2 separate regions of the Homo sapiens genome follow, and region 2 is linked to region 1. A link means that fine-mapping ties the variant in region 1 to the expression of a gene that starts in the linked region. Tissue or cell type: whole blood. Region 1 holds a variant in brackets; the other region holds the start of a gene. All regions are shown on one strand. Distances are from middle to middle.

Region 1 (8,181 bases):
TATACTTTAAAAAGTTAAGGATGCAGGCTGTAATCTAGAGTAACCATTGAAAGAACAGTAAGAGAAGATAAACTAATAAGCTAATAGATAAAGAAAACAGGATTTGAAAAATTCAAAAGAAGGCAAGAAGGAGAGAAAAAGAAATACAGAATACAGAAACAATAAGATAGATTTTAAGCCCAAATATGTCAGTAATTACATTAAACATAGATGGACTAAAAAGTCCAATTAAAGAGGAAGATTGTCACACTGGATTTAAAAAACACACACACAACTATATGTTGATTATAATAAACACACCTTAAATATAAGGACACAGAAAGTTTGAAAGCAAAAGAATGAAAAAAATATAGATACAACACAAATTCAAAACAAAAGAAAGCAGATGTAGCATAAAGACTTTAATGTATAAAGCAAGATAAGAAGTGAATAACCAGCCTGGCCAACATGGTAAAACCCCATCTCTAAGAATAAATACAAAAATTAACTGGGTGTGGTGGCACATGCCTGTAGTCTCAGCTACTAGGGAGGCTGAGGTGGGAGGATCACTTGAGCCCAGGAGGTGGAAGTTCCAATGAGCTGAGATCACACGGTTGCACTCCAGCCTAGGCAACAGACTGAGAGCCTGTCTCAAAACAATAAAATAAAATAAAATGGAATAAACAGAAATGTTTCATAATAATAATGGGGTCAGCTCACCAAGAAAATACAACAATATAAAATTTGTATGTACTTAATAACAAGACATCAGAATATAGAAAGCAAAAAAAATAAAAAAGTCATAACTAAAATAAGAAATAGAGAAATCCTTAATCAGAGTAGTAGAGTAGATTTCAATATACCTCTCTTGTTAACTAGAAAACTATCAGACAAAAAAATCAGTAGAGATATAAATGATTTGAATGATGCAATAAATATTACTGAAATGTTACATATAGAACATTGCAACAATTGTTGTTGAATATACATTCTTTTCAAGTACACATGGAACATTTACCAAAATTGACTATATGTTGGATCATAAAGCAACTCAATAAATTTAAAATGATTAAAATCAAACAGAGCATGTTCTCTGGCCACACTTAAATTAATTTAGAAATCAATAATAAAAAAGGTAACTAGAATATCCCTGAATGTTTGGAAATTAGCAACATACTTCTAAATACCTAATGGATTAAATAAATCACAATATACAGGAAAAGATATTTTGGACTAAATAATGTTAAGAATAGCTAAGCTTGCAAGATGCAACAAAAACTGCCATTAGAGGAAAATTTATAGCCTTAAAATTGAAAATGTGTCAATTGAACCATAGAATATATATAGAAATAATGACATAGTTCAAAAAAGAAAGCCTGAAAATAGTGATGTAAGTATCCATCTCAAGAAGTTAGAAACACACACACACACACACACACTCACACACACAGAGTAAATTAAACACAGAAAGTAGAAAGAAAGGAAATGATAAAGATAGGAGTAGACGTACTGTGAGTTAAATAAAAAATGAAAATAAAAAATAAAGATAAGAGTAGAAACAAATAAAATAGAAAACAGGTTTATAACAGAGACTCAATAAAGGCACAAATTGGTTTTTGGAAACGACTGATAGAAAAACTGATAAAACTGATCTAGAATAAAAGAGAGGAGGCACAAATAAAGTCAGAACCAGAAAGGGGACATAGCTATAGATCCTGTTTAAGAGTAGTAAGAATTATAGATATTTGGGTTTTATTCCCAGAGTTACATATTGAATTGGCGTGGGATACAGCCTGGGCATAGAGGTTTTCAAAAGGACCTTGGAAATCTAATGTGCAGCTGATTTTGAGAACATCGGCTGTAGGGTGATCTGGTTGGGCCATTGTTGGAGAACGCCTGATGTTGGTATATTTGGTTTTTTTCTTTTCTCTTAAGCTGTTCAAATTCCCCTGTGAAAAACCTTCCATTTTCCTGCCTAAAGGATATAACCCTGGTTGATAACTCTCTGATAACTGAGCAGAGGAGGAGGATTGAGGGGTCTTAACATTTAACAAATAAGCATTCCCTTTATCCTGTTTTCAGAACAATAACCTTAATCTCAACTGTATCTGATCCCAAACTAGAGGCCCTAAGTCTTACTTTCTTCATAGACTAGGCCTAAGTCTTTCTCTGGAGCAGGAGAGGAGCCAACACAAGGCCTCACAGTATGGAGAAAGGGGATGGATACTCATGCTGTTTCTTTTTTGTTTAAAAAAAATCATGTTCGATTCAAGGGGTGGGTACATGTCAGGTTTGTTACATTGTCATATTGCACAATGCAAGGTTTGTGCTTCTATTGATCTGTCTATTGATAGCGAACATAGTATCCAATAGGAAGTTTTTCAGCCCTTGCCCCTCCTGCCTACCTCCCCACTTTTGGAGTTCCCAATGTCTATTGTTCCCATCTTTAAATCCATGTGTACCCAATGTTTAGCTTTCACTTATAAGTGAGAACATTCAATATTTGATTTTCTGTTTTTGTGTTAATTCACTTAGGATAATAGCTTACCGTTGCATTCATGTTGCTGCAAGGACATGATTTTGTTCTTTTTTATTGCTGCATAGTATTCCATGGTGTATATATACCACATTTTTGTTATCTAGTTCCCTGTTGATGGGCACCTAGGTTGATTCCATGACTTTGCTATTGTTTGCAATTATTATTATAGCACACCCTTCAGTTTAGTTAGGCCTCCTCCCCCTCCTCACCCTCTTCCTCCTCCTTTTTGTTCTTCATAGACTATTTTTTAGAGAAGTTTTTGATTCACAGCAAAACTGAGCAAAAGGCACAGAGATTTCCTGTGGGAAACCCCATTCCCCCATACATGCATAGCCTACCCCCTATTAACATCCCCCACCAGAGTAACACATTGGCTATAATTAATGAACCTACACTGACACATCATTATCACCCAAAGTCCATAGTTTACATCAGGGGTCACTTTGATGTTGTACATTCTGTGGGTTTGGACAGATGTATAATGACATAATTACCATTACGTTATCAAACAAGGTCATTTCACTGCCCTAAAAATCCTTTGTGCTCCATGGATTTATCTCTCCCTCACTAATAACCTCCAGCAACCACTGACCTTTTTACCATCTCCATAGTTTTGCCTTTTCCAGAATGTTATAGATTTGGAATTATACAGAATGTAGACTTTTCAGATTGGCTTCTTTCACTTAGTAATATGCATTTAAGTTGCCTTCATGTCTTTTCATGGCTTTATAACTTCTTTCTTTTTAGTGTTGAATAATATTCCCTTGTCTGTATGTATCACAGCTTATTTATCCATTTATTTATCTACTGATAGACATGTCCACTTATTTATCTACTGAAAGATATATTAGTTGCTTCCAAATATTGGCAATTATGAATAAAGCTGCTATAAACATCTGTGTGCAGGAGTCTTAGTCTGTTTTCTGCTGCTCCAATAGACTACTACAGACTGGGTAACTTACAAACAATATAAGTTTATTTGGCTCATGGTCCTGGAGGCTGGAAGGTTCCAGAACATGGCATCAGCATCTGATGAGGGTTTTAGGGCTGCATCATCTCATGGTGGAAGATGAAAGGGCAGGAAGGCACACACAACAGTGAGAGAGAAAGGTGGCCAAACTCATTCTTTTTATTTTATTTTTTATTTTCATTTTTTTAGAGATAGGGTTTTGCTCTGTCACCCAGGCTGGAGTGTAGTGGCATAATCATAGCTCACTATAACCTTAACACCTGGGCTTAGGTGATCTTCCTGCCTCAGCTTCCTGAGTACTCAGCTGGGACTAAAGGCACATGCCACCACTTTTGCCAATTTTTTTTTCTTTAATTTTTTGTAGAGACAGGGTTATATTGCCCAGGCTGGTCTTGAGCTCCTGGCCTCAAGCAATTCCTCACTTCTTGGCCTCCCAAAGTGCTGAGTTTACAGCCATGAGCCACTGCATCTGGCCAAAATCATTCTTTTATCAGGAACCCACTCCCATGATAACTAACCCATTCCTTAGATAATGGTGTCCATAAGAATCACCTCTTAAAGGTCTCACCTCTCAACACTGCTGCATTGGGGAGGAAATTTCCATCACATGAACTTTGGGACATATTTATACCATAGGAACAGATTTTTGTGTGAACGTAAGATTTCAGTTCATTTGGGTAAACACCAAAGAGTGTGAGTGCTGGATTGTGTGTTGAAAATGTTTGGTTTTGCAAGAAACCACTACACTGTTTCCAAAGTGACTATACTATTTTGCATTCCTGCCTGCAATGGATGCAAGTTCCTGTTGCTCCACATCCTTGTCAGTATTTGGTATTGTCAGCGTTCTTGATTTTGGCCGTTCTAATAGAGGTATAGTGGTATCTTGTTTTAATTTGCATTTCCCTGATGATACGATGAGCAGCATCTTTTCATATGCTTATTTGCCATTTGTATATCTTCTTTGGTGAGGTGTCTGTTGAGATCGTTGGCCCCTTTTATATTTCTTTATTTTTAATTGACATATAATAATTGTACATATTGGCTGGGCACAGTGGCTCACGCCTGTAATCCCAGCACTTTGGGAGGCCGAGACGGGCGGGTCACGAGGTCAGGAGCTTGAGACCATCCTGGCTAACATGGTGAAACCCCATCTCTACTAAAAATACAAAAAAATTAGCCAGGTGTGGTGGTGGGTACCTGTAGTCCCAGCTACTCCGGAGGCTGAGGCAGGAGAATGGTGTGAACCTGGGAGGTGGAGCTTTGAGCCGAGATCACACAACTGCACTCCAGCCTGGGCAACAGAATGAGACTCTGTCT[CAA/C]AAAAAAAAAAAAAAAATAATAAAAATTGTACATATTAATGAGGTACATGTGATATTTCAATACATGTTTACAATGTGTAATGATCAAATAAGGGTCCAGTTTTTAGCTGGGTTGTTTACTTTTTTATTACTTAATTTTAATAGTTCTTTGTATATTTTGGATAACAGTCCTTCATCAGATATGTCTTTTGTAAATATTTTCTCCTAGTGTGGTTTCTGTCTTTATTCTCTTGACAGTGTCTTTCACAGAGCAGAAGTTTTTAATTTCAACAAAAGTCCAGCTTATTAATTCTTTCTTTCAAGGATTGTGCCTTTGATGTTGTATTTTTTTTTTTTTTGAGACAGATTCTCGCTCTGTCACCCAGACTAGAGTGCAGTGGCACGATCTCGGCTCACTGCAACCTCTGCCTCCCGGGTTCAAGTGATTCTTCTGCCTCAGCCTCCCGAGTAGCTGGGACTACAGACACACGCCACCACACCCAGCTAATTTTTGTATTTTTAGTAGAGATGGAGTTTCACCATATTGGCCAGGCTGGTCTCAAACTCCTGACCTCGTGATCCACCCACCTTGGCCTCCCAAAGTGCTGGGATTACAAGCGTAATTACAGGCCTGGCCTGATGTATCTTAAAAGCCATTGCCAAACCCTAGGTCATCTAGATGTTCTCCTATGTTATCATCTAGGAGTATTACAGTTTTAAAAGTTTTTATAGCTCTGCCTTTTGTATTTAGGTTTACGGTCCATTTTGAGTTAATTTTTGTTAAGTCTGTGTCTAGATTTTGTGTGTGTGTATGGATGTCCACATATTCCAGTATCATTTGTTGAAAAGGCTATCTTTTCCCCATTACATTGCCTTTGCTTCTTTGTCAAAGATCAATTGACTATATTTACATGGGTCTATTTCTGGGTTTTCTATTCTGTTCCACTGCTGTATTTGCTTTTTTTTTTTTTTTTTTTTTTGCTGATATCACACTTCTTAATTAAAATATTATGGGCGCGGTGGCTCACTCCTATAATCCCAGCACTTTAGGAGGCCAAGGCGGGCAGATCACCTGAGGTCAGGAGTTTGAGACCAGCCTGGCCAACATGGTGAAACCTCATCTGTACTAAAAACACAAAAATTAGCTGGGCCTGGTGGTGTGCACCTGTAATCCCACCTACTTGGGAGGCTGAGGCAGGAGAATTGCTTGAATTGGGGAGGCGGAGGTTGCGATGAGCTGAGATGACGCCACTGCACTCCAGCCTGGGGGACATAGCAAGACTCCATCTCAAAAAAAAAAAAAAAGTATTATGGGAGGAAGTCTTGAAGTCTGGTAATATCAGTTACACAACTTTTTTCTTCTCTTTCAATATTGTGTTAGCTATTCTGGTTCTTTGGCCTCTCTGTAAAACTTAGGATCAGTTTGCCAATATCCACAAAATAACTTGTTGAGATTTTAATTGACATTTCATTGACTCTATAGATAAAAGTTGCTTTCATTTTTGAATGTTGGGCTTTTACTGAGCTACCTTTTTTTTTTTTTTTTTTTTTTTTTTTTTTTTTTTTGAGACGGAGTCTCGCTCTGTCGCCCAGGCCAGACTGTGGACTGCAGTGGCGCAATCTCGGCTCACTGCAAGCTCCGCTTCCCGGGTTCACGCCATTCTCCTGCCTCAGCCTCCCGAGTAGCTGGGACTACAGGCGCCCGCCACCGCGCCTGGCTAATTTTTTGTATTTTTAGTAGAGACGGGGTTTCACCTTGTTAGCCAGGATGGTCTCGATCTCCTGACCTCATGATCCACCCGCCTCGGCCTCCCAAAGTGCTGGGATTACAGGCGTGAGCCACCGCTCCTGGCCTTTTTTTTTTTTTTTTTTTTGAGACAGAGTCTCACTTTGTCACCCAGGCTGGAGTGCTGTGGCACAATCTCCGGGGGCCGCCACCTCCTGGGCTCAAGCGATTTCCCACCTCAGCCCTCCAAATAGCTGGGACTACAGGCATATGCCACTACACCTGGCTATTTTTAATTTTTTGTATTTTTGGTAGAGACAGGGTTTCACCATGTTGCCCAGGCTTGTCTCAAACACCTGAGCTCAAGCGATCCTCCTGCCTTAGCCTCCCAAAATGCCATGATTGCAGGCGTGAGCCACCACACCTGGTCTCAGATACCTAATTTAATTATCTTATTAGTCATCGTAATTTTTAATGGATTCTTTTGGTGTTTCTGTGTAGACAATATTGTCCAGAAGTAGTGATTATTTTGTCCCTTCCAATTTCGCTTTTGCTCTCTTTCGTTCTTACGTCATTGTCTGCGATCAACAGTAAAACTTAGCAGTGATTTCCTTGTCTTGTTCACTCCATTTATTTAGCAGAATTTATTGAACCCCCATTATGTATTAGGCATAGTTTTACCTGCTGAGGATACAGCTGTGAAAAAAATAGTCAGAGTACCTGCCCTGATGAAAATTGTACTTTGGTTTGGAGAAGAAAAAGACAGAAAAAATAAATGAGCATATAATTTCAGGTAGTATAATAAAGAAAAATCAAGCAGAGGAAGGAGAAGGACAGTTGTATTCCTTCATTTTGTGTTGCTATAAAGGAACTTTAACCTAAGGTTGAGTAATTTATCAAGAAAAGAAGTTTATTTGGCTCATGGTTCTGCAGGCTATATAAGAAGCATACCATCAGCATCAGCTTCTGGCGAAGGCTTCGGGAAGCTTCCACTCATAGCAGAAGGTAAAGGGGCAGCAGGCCTGTCACATGGTGAGACAGGGAGCAAGAGCGAGAGGAGGAGGTGCCACGCTCTTTTAAACACCCAGCTTTCACGAGAACTAAGAGAGTGAGAACTCAGTCATCACTGAGGGGATGGACCCCAGCCATTCATGAAGGATCTGCCCCCATGGCCCAAACACCTCCCACCAGGCCCTGACTTCAACTTTGGGGATCCAATTTTGACATGAGATTTGAAGGGGACAAATATCCAAACTATATCAACATTATATCAATTTTCTTCTTTAAAAATAGCTTTATGGAGATATGATTTACACTTCATAAAATTTATCAGTTTAAAGTACATAATTCAATATTTACATAGTTGTGCAACCATCACTCATAATCTAGACTCAGAAAATTTTCATCAACCCTCAAAGAAACCCCATACCCTTAGAGATCATTCTCTGTTCTCATCAAACCAACATTTCCCCAGTCCTCAGCAACCACTAATACAGTTTTTGTCACTATAGATTTGCCTATTCTGAATGTTTCAGATAAATAAAATTACACAAGATGAGGTTTTTGTTTGTTTGTTTTTTGTTTGTTTTTTGAGATGGAGTCTTGCTCTTTTGCCTAGGCTGGAGTGCAGTGGCGCAATCTTAGCTCACTGCAACCTCCACCTCCCAGG
Region 2 (8,181 bases), 36 kb before region 1:
CATCCCAGGAGGATCAGAATTTGGTCTTCAGGGAGCTGGAGGGTTTCCTGATAAAAATGGCACACTGTCCTCACTCTTCAGTGTGGTACCCAGGCTCAGAAGGGATGCCAGAGACTTTTGCCCAAACCACCCAGGCTCTCCTGGATGTGTGGAGCTGGCAGCATCTGCTCCTCACCACCTCAGACCAGTCCTACCTTCCCTAGCTACTTCCCCATAGCTGCTTCCACTGCACGTTCTTCTGAACCCTGACGGACAGGGCACAAGCAACCCCATGTTCTCATATGCACATTTACCAGAACACCAAGCACCTGTGACCCCTTTCCCCACCCACCCACCTGCAAACCAGTACTGTCTTCTCCCCAGGGCTGTTCACTGGAGGGTGATGGAGCCAGGAAGTACTTATAAGCCTGGGGGTGTCAGTAAACACCTTGCTTCCTTTCCCTGGGGCTTGTAGACTGGGAGGAGGGATTCTGACAACATTTACTCACACTCACCGCCCCCTCCTCAGACTCTCCTGGAGGCTGCACAGGTAGAGGTGGGACCCTTTCTTCCATAACTCTAGCCTTCTACTCTTCCACATCCTGACACACTTAGGGGATTTCAGCATTCTTGTCAATCACTCTCATGGTGTCCTGGCTACAAGGATCCTTAACCCAGTGATCTCCATCCCTACCTTTCTGCCACACAATTGGCTTGTCTAGCTACTCCTTCAATCTCACTATGACTCTAACCTAGGCCATCACACCAAGACCTCAAATCCTGCAACTCTTTTCCAGTGGCTGATAAACTTTTTCTATAAAGGGCCAGACAGCTCTGCCACTGTAGCACAAAAACAGCCTCACACAATATGCAAAACTTTATTTACAATTCATTTACCATGAAGCTTTATTTATAAAAACAGGTAGTTTGTACCTGTGGGCCATAGTTTCTTGACTCCTGCTCTTTTCTGATGGTGACTTCCCTGTGTTTCTACAACTTCACTCCTTACTCTGGTGGAACCTGCTCCTCGCATGACCCCGGTGAAGCTGCCAGTAAGCCACCCTGATTCTTCCCCACTCTGACTTCACACACCTCCTCACCCCACCTGGATCTCATGGTCAGTTCCCTTCTCCACCCAAGGCCCACTGTCCCCCTTTTCTTCTCCAAAGCTTCCCAGTGGTACTGGAGAAGGACCTTGACTTGTGCTAACAGGGTCCATAAAAATTCCTTCTCTTGAACCTCATTTGGGTCTTCGCTGTGTGGTGGTCAATTGTGTTTAACAAACATGCCTTAGTTCACTGTGGATTGAGTACTCTTCTTTTAAAAAATTCTCCTCCCAGGGTTTGGTGACACAGCAAAGGTCTTTCACCTCTTTTTTCTTCTTTGTCCCTTTTTCCCACCCCTTATAATTTTTTAATAGCTACTGTATTAACGGATCCACCCTTTATATAATCAGTCTCCAAGGTTTTAAGGACCTCTTCTTCCTTTATAATTTATTTCCTAGGTTGCTTTAATCACTGCCCCAACCTAAACTAGCCCTCTGAAGCAAGAGCACTCAAATCTACTATGTCCAGCCACTACCTTGTGTGGGAGCTTAAGATCTGAATTTCCAACTATGTCGACAGTCTGTCCACTTAAATATCCTGCCATAACTCAAACAGCACATATTCTGAACCAAATTAATAGTTCCCTCAAACTCAGCTCCTTCTCCTGTAGTTCTTATTGCTAATGGCATCACTCTCCTCCTAGCCTATTAAGGCTAGAAACCTGCGTCATCTTTGCTGCCCGCCTCCTGGCCTCATCTCCTGGATCTCATCAGGTAGTTGCCAAGTCCCACCTTGTCTGCCACCTCTGTACTGTGTCTTAAATGTGTTTTCTTCCAGTTCCAGCCCCTCATTACCTCTTACTGGGCCATTGCAAAGGCCTATAATCTTTCTATCCCTCTACATGCCAATCCAGGTGGCACATCTCCCTCCACAGCCACCTATCACAACTCTGACCCTTTCCTTATAGAGCTCCTTAAATGCCACTTGCTTCAGGAGACTCCTGACTCCCACCTTCTTCAGCCCTTGGGGTTTCCTCTCCTTGAGCTTCTCCTACTCAGCACCTGTTAAACCATTTACTTTCCCTCGTATCAGAGCTACTGGATTTTTTTTTTTTTTATGGCACACACACATTGCAGTGTCTGAAAGGTAATTAACATTAGGTGTCCTATAAGTTATACTCAACTCTCCACTCTCAATATTCCCAACACAGTACTGATGAGGGGCTTCAGTTGATTCCATGGTGAGCTCTTGGGGGTCAAGGACTATGCTTCAATCATCTCAACCTCTCTAGCACTTGGCACAAAGCTGATTCTCAACAAACATTTGTTGAATTAATGACTGCATGAACAAGACGCCACTATGCAAGCAATCATTTCTTTCTTGTTCCTCTTGCTGCACCCTCACGCCCACCATATTGCTAGGGACAGAGGCAAATGTGTGTACAGAGTGAGTGCTGGCTCCCAGAGCTGAATTATGGGACTTAGGGGTTCTCCTATTAGCTCTTTGAGTGACCTTGGGAAAAAAAAATTGTGTTTCAAAGTGGCTAGAGTCAGTTAAAAGCTAAATGTTTTTTAAACTGCTACTCTTGGCCCAAATCTGGAAAATATTTTAATGTCTGTCTATAGAAGAATTAAATTATGAAACATTCATTCTATGGAATAGTACTCACACGGTTATTTTTTTTCTTGTGAGACGGAGTCTCGCTCTGTTGCCAAGCTGGAGTGCAGTGGCATGATCTCGGCTCACTGCAATCAGGCTGGAGTGCAGTGTGATCTCAGCTCACTGCAATCTCCGCCTCCCGGGTTCAAGTGATTCTCCTGCCTCAGCCTCCGGAGTAGCTGGGATTACAGGCGCACGCCACCACACCCAGCTAATTTTTGTATTTTTAGTAGAGATGGGGTTTCACCATGCTGGCCAGGATGGTGTCGATCTCCTGATCCGCCCTCCTCGGCCTCCCAAAGTGCTGGGATTACAGGCATGAGCTACCACGCCCGGCCAGTTATTTTATTTTTTTAAAATGTGTCATATCTATTTGTATTCACCTGGGGATAATTTAGGAATCATATAATGTTCAATAAAACAACAAAAAGTTGTAGAATAGTATGTACATTATAATTTTTTTCCCTAAACAAAAAGAGAAAATCCATGAATGTGTATGTGTGCGCACAATGGAATGAACACAGAGAAAAGAAAGGAGATGTAAGTTTGCTAAGGATATCTTAGGGCAGTAGGGTTAGAGGGAGAGGAGGAGATTATTAATCTTTCTTTTTGCCCCCCTTAAATCCCCTAAACACCAAGCCACCGTTGAGTACAGCCATTTGGAAAGCTACGGAATAGGAGAGCAAGAAAGTGAGCAAGCAACCCACAGTGATCCTTTCTAAATCTCTCAGCATCACCTCTATGCAAATTACATAACAACTCATTTAACATTCATTGCCTCCCAGATTTCACTTTAATCTGGTCTCACATATTTAGGATCAAGAGATAAGCACTACCCCCTTTGCCTTTACCACACAGGTTCCACAGTGCAATACACTGACACCTGTGCAGAAATGCTTTTCCTTCAAGTTAGGCGTCCTTAATCCTTTCAAAGGAGTGCTTAAAAAAAAAAAAATATATATATATCTTAACAAAATTGAGGTATATAATTTAGATACAGTAAAATTTATCCTTTTAAGTGTATAAATCTATGAATTTCGACAATCGCCACCACAATCAAGATATAGAACATTTCTATTTCCCTAAAAAGCTTTTTCATGCCACTCAACAATCAATTTCTTCCACGATACCCAGTCCCTGGCACCCACGGATCCACTTTCCATCCCTATAACTGTGGTTTTTTTTTTCCAGAATGTCATATAAATGGACTCATACAGTATGCAGCCTTTTGAGTCTGGCTTCTCGTGCTTAGCATAACGCACTTGCGAGTCACCCGTGTTGTTACTTGTAACAGTATTTCCTCTTCACTACTAAGCAGTATCCCATTATGTGGATGTATTTCAGTTTATCTGTTAACCTGCTGAAGGCCATTTGTGTTTTCCCAGTTTTTAGCTATAAAGTGGTTAACAAGCTTTCTCCTACAGCTTAAGTGCCATTTTTAACTCCCAGAAGGCCTTCAGGAGGTGGATAAGGTGAGCTGAGGATAGTGTGCGCTGCTCAAAGTCCGAACGTTGTTCAAGTGGGGCTAAAGCGGGGGTAGGGGGTTCCACAAGGGGCCCTAGCAGAAAGGGAGACGATGTGTCTGCCTTGACATGGGCTCAGGCCTTCCTACTCAGACGGGGGCGCATTTTCCCCCAAGCCCTCTTCACGCACTGCTCCATTCTGCAGAATTAATGAGCAGGATACAAATTCACAAATTCCTAAACCAGCAATGCTGCTTGGCAAGACTACACACACACGCACACACACACACACACACTCTCACAAGACGCACAAATTCCTAAACCAGCAATGCTGCTTGGCAAGACGACACACACCCACACACACACACTCACAAGACGCACAAATTCCTAAACCAGCAATGCTGCTTGGCAAGACGACACACACACACACACTCTAACACTCACAAGACGCACACGCTACGCACTGCAACACAAAGCCTGTGAGGTTGTAAACGAACCCAGACGGCGGCGAAGGTCCAAGGCCGGCCCGGCTTACCTGCCGCGGATTCATTGCGCCCGCGAGGCATTGCCCGGCCCGACCCGCCGGCGGCACGACCCTGGCCCGACCGCTGGGCCGCGCCAGCCCCTCGAGGCCCCCACGCCTCCGCTACTCCGCACTGGAAGTGGCCCCGGGGCGTCGGCACGGGAAACTCCGCGGGTCTGCGCGCCGGGCCCAAGATGGCTCCGGTTCAATTTCGCTTTCGTTTCCTCGGAAAGCCTTCCCCTCCGGAAAGTTTGGCCAAGAGGAGGGGCTTGAGCAAATCTTGCGCCACGCTTGGTTTCAGGCCGGTTACAAGTCGAACCCCTCCGCTGCATGAGAACTACGGAAGGTACTTTTTTTTTTTTTTTTGAGGCGGAGTCTCGCTCTTTTTGCCCAGGCTGGAGTGCAATGGCGCAATCTCGGCTCACTGCAACCTCTGCCCCCCGGGTTCAAGCGATTCTCCTGCCTCAGCCTACGGAGTAGCTGGGATTACAGGCGAGCGCCATCACTCCTGGCTTTTTTTTTTTTTTTTTTTTTGTATTTTTAGTAAGAACAGGGTTTCACCACGTTAGCCAGGGTGGTCTCGAACTCCCGGCTTCAAGAGATCCGCCCACCTCGGCCTCCCAAAGTGTTGGGATTACAGGCGTCAGCCCCCGCGCCCGTCCGGTACTGTTTAGGAAAACCGCCGTTTCAGTACTGAGCTCCTAATTCCCCGCACAGGCCGTAGGCAGGAATACACGAATAGAGCAAAAGGAAAACAAAGGCACACAAAACCTCAGGCCAGAAACAGCATGACGCCCGGTCCTCCCTCTCTCCGCGCCAGCGCGGTGGTGGCCGCGTCTCCAATGTGGAGGGGGGGGGGAGGGGATGGGCGGGAGCGCAGATCTCGTCAAACGACCAAGGTCCCCACCGTGGGACCTTGTTAATGCTCCTACTATGTTATAAACTTAAGCAAGCAGATGCCAGCCAGTAAAAAGTACCAAGAGTAGCAACAGCAGCAGTGAACAATTTAGGATCTAGGTCATAAAAACTACCCCACCAGGCAAATGGTTAAGTACTTTACATGTATTATCTCCCTTAATCTTCACAACAGCCCTCCAAGGTAGGCATTATTCCCACTTTGCAGGTGTAGAAACCGAGGCTTGACTAAGGCCACGCTGCTGCCAAATCCAGGTCTGAAGGCTTTAGTAAAGCTCAGTCTTCAGCGCTTCTCTACACTCATTCAAATTACACCATTACTTTCAAAAAGATAACTTTTGTTATCTAGAGGGACAAAAGTCAAATTTGCTTCATGGTCAGGCTTCTCTAACTGCTGGATTTTTGTTCAAGGTATCTGGGAAACGATTATTCTAGGGTTCAACACCATCCTCACCTGTGAGAATGTTCTTTCCCTGTGTTTAATCTTAATTTTACCCCCATGCTTATGAAATTACAAGGCAGTCCCTTTATAGCAGTATCTCCAGCTGATGCCCTTTCATGGTGTTAGTCACTCCAAATTAACATTCCCTTGCAGGCTGGGCTCTGTCTTCCTTCTGGGCCTTTGCACATTCTATTCGTTGGCCTAGCATGCACCTCCTCCACGGCTTCCCGTGAATCAACCTTTCAAATTTACAAGGGAGGCCTTCCCCACAGCAGGTAGGGGGAGAGGAGGGGGAGCAGGTGCTGTTTGTGGTTTCCTACTCCATGCTTCTCGAGTTACTGGGCGCCTACCCCTAATAGGGCACTTGCACACTGCGCTAAAAACGCCCCATTCGATCATTTAACAAAACTTTACTAAGCACCTAATTATGTGGCAGATACTGTGTTAAGCACCCAGGATATGACACAAATAAGAGCGCCATCCTTTAGCTAGTCTGCTAGGGAAGATGGATGCCTCAGTAATCACAATTATCATGTACTTCTTGTTCATATATCTGCCTCTAGAATTGTCAAGTCATCTCCTCGGGGGCAGGAAGCATGTTTTGTATCCTTATATTCGCCTTCAGAGGGCTGGTTAGTTGAAAGAATAACAGACCCCTCAGTAGGTATAACAATGGGCAAAAACAATCGAAAGACAACTTCACAGGAGATAAAAAATATCAAACATATGAAAAGGTTCTCAACCCCATCACATCAGAGAAATGCACAGTATAGCTACAGTGAGCTACTGTCCATTCACCAGACAGACAGCATTAGCCATCTGATTAGACCAGGTGGCAGCAAGGATGCAGAGCAGCTCTTAGTCACTACAGGAAACCAGTTTACCATTATCTAGAAAGGTAATGGTAAACCCCAAGAAGTTCATGGTTGCATTATTTGTAATTAATAGCCCCCAAACTGGAAACAACCCAAATGTCCATCAAAAGTAAAATGGATAAATGGTGGCATATGCCCATGATGGAATACAATACAGCAACAAAAATGAAAGATCTACGCATGCAACAAGGTAGCTAATTATCTAAATATGATACTGAGTGGGAAAAGCCATATGTATACTATATGATCCCACTTACAGAAAGTCCCAAGCCAGGCAAAACCAAACTATAGTATGCTCTGCATAAAAGACAAAATGAGGCCGGGCGCAGTGGCTCATGCCTGTAATCCCAGCACTTTGGGAGGCCGAGGTGGGCGGATCACGAGGTCAGGGGATCGAGACCATCCTGGCCAACATAGTGAAACCCCATCTCTACTAAAAGTACAAAAAATTAGCTGGGCATGGTGGCGTGTGCCTGTAGTCCCAGCTACTGGGGAGGCTGACGTGGTAGAAACGCTTGAAGCAGGGAGTCGGAGGTTGCAGTGAGCCAAGATTGTGCCATTGCACTCCAGCCTGGAGACAGAGCAAGACACCGTCTCAAAAAAAAAAAAAAAGAAAAAAAAAAAAAAAAAGACAAAATTGTGGTTAATCACTTCTAGGGAGAAAGGTGGGAGTTTTGACTGGGAAGAAATCTTTTGGGTACCGGTGATGTTCTAGCTCTTGACTTGGGTAGTGGCTACATATGTTTGCTTTCCAATAATTTCATTATACATTTACGTTTTATTCATGTTTCTGTATATATATGCTGTATTTCACAAATTTAAAAGGTAAAAACAAACAAGAACCACAACAAACTCTTGCTGTTGCAATTCCAGTCCACTTCCCCATGTTTTTTTTCCTCCGTTTAAGTAACAGGAGTTATATCTTACCTCTGCTTTCTTGTCTTCAGGCAAGACAATCTGAAAGCCTTTACCCTTCTTCAGAAATGATCCAGAAAAGCTTTAATCACAACTACTGTGCGAGGGAAGCTGCACCGCTGCTCCCCCCACCCCTTTTAATCTAACATAGGACACAGTGGCAAAGCAGTGAACTTTCCTCAACAGAAGGTCAGTTTATGCCTTGAAAGAACAACAACTCCTATTGTCATTTAATCTTAGCAGCTCAAGTAACTGCAGACAGTCTTATTCATAAACGTTTCATCTCCTCCCCCTCAGTAATTGTTTTAACTCCCCCATGGTTGTGAGGTGATGATGTCTTTTTTTTTTTAACTGTTCTATTGTA

The links. PIP is the estimated chance that this variant, and not a neighbour inherited with it, causes the effect.
Region 2: it holds the start of ADAR, and the variant in region 1 is fine-mapped to the expression of ADAR in whole blood (INTERVAL, PIP above 0.99).

What each region holds. Positions count from the first base shown.
Region 1 is chr1:154,639,170-154,647,350 of GRCh38, forward strand. No RefSeq gene overlaps it. Among named protein-coding and RNA genes, the nearest start is that of ADAR, 35 kb to the left of the region's middle. The variant CAA/C (reference allele first, on the strand shown) is at 4,806.
Region 2 is chr1:154,603,310-154,611,490 of GRCh38, forward strand. It overlaps ADAR (adenosine deaminase RNA specific), which reads right to left and starts at 4,877. Exons shown (of 15, transcript NM_001111.5): 1 at 4,683-4,877. The coding sequence starts at 4,697. RefSeq lists a silencer at 4,651-4,760 and enhancers at 4,761-5,150, 5,820-6,813, 6,897-6,976.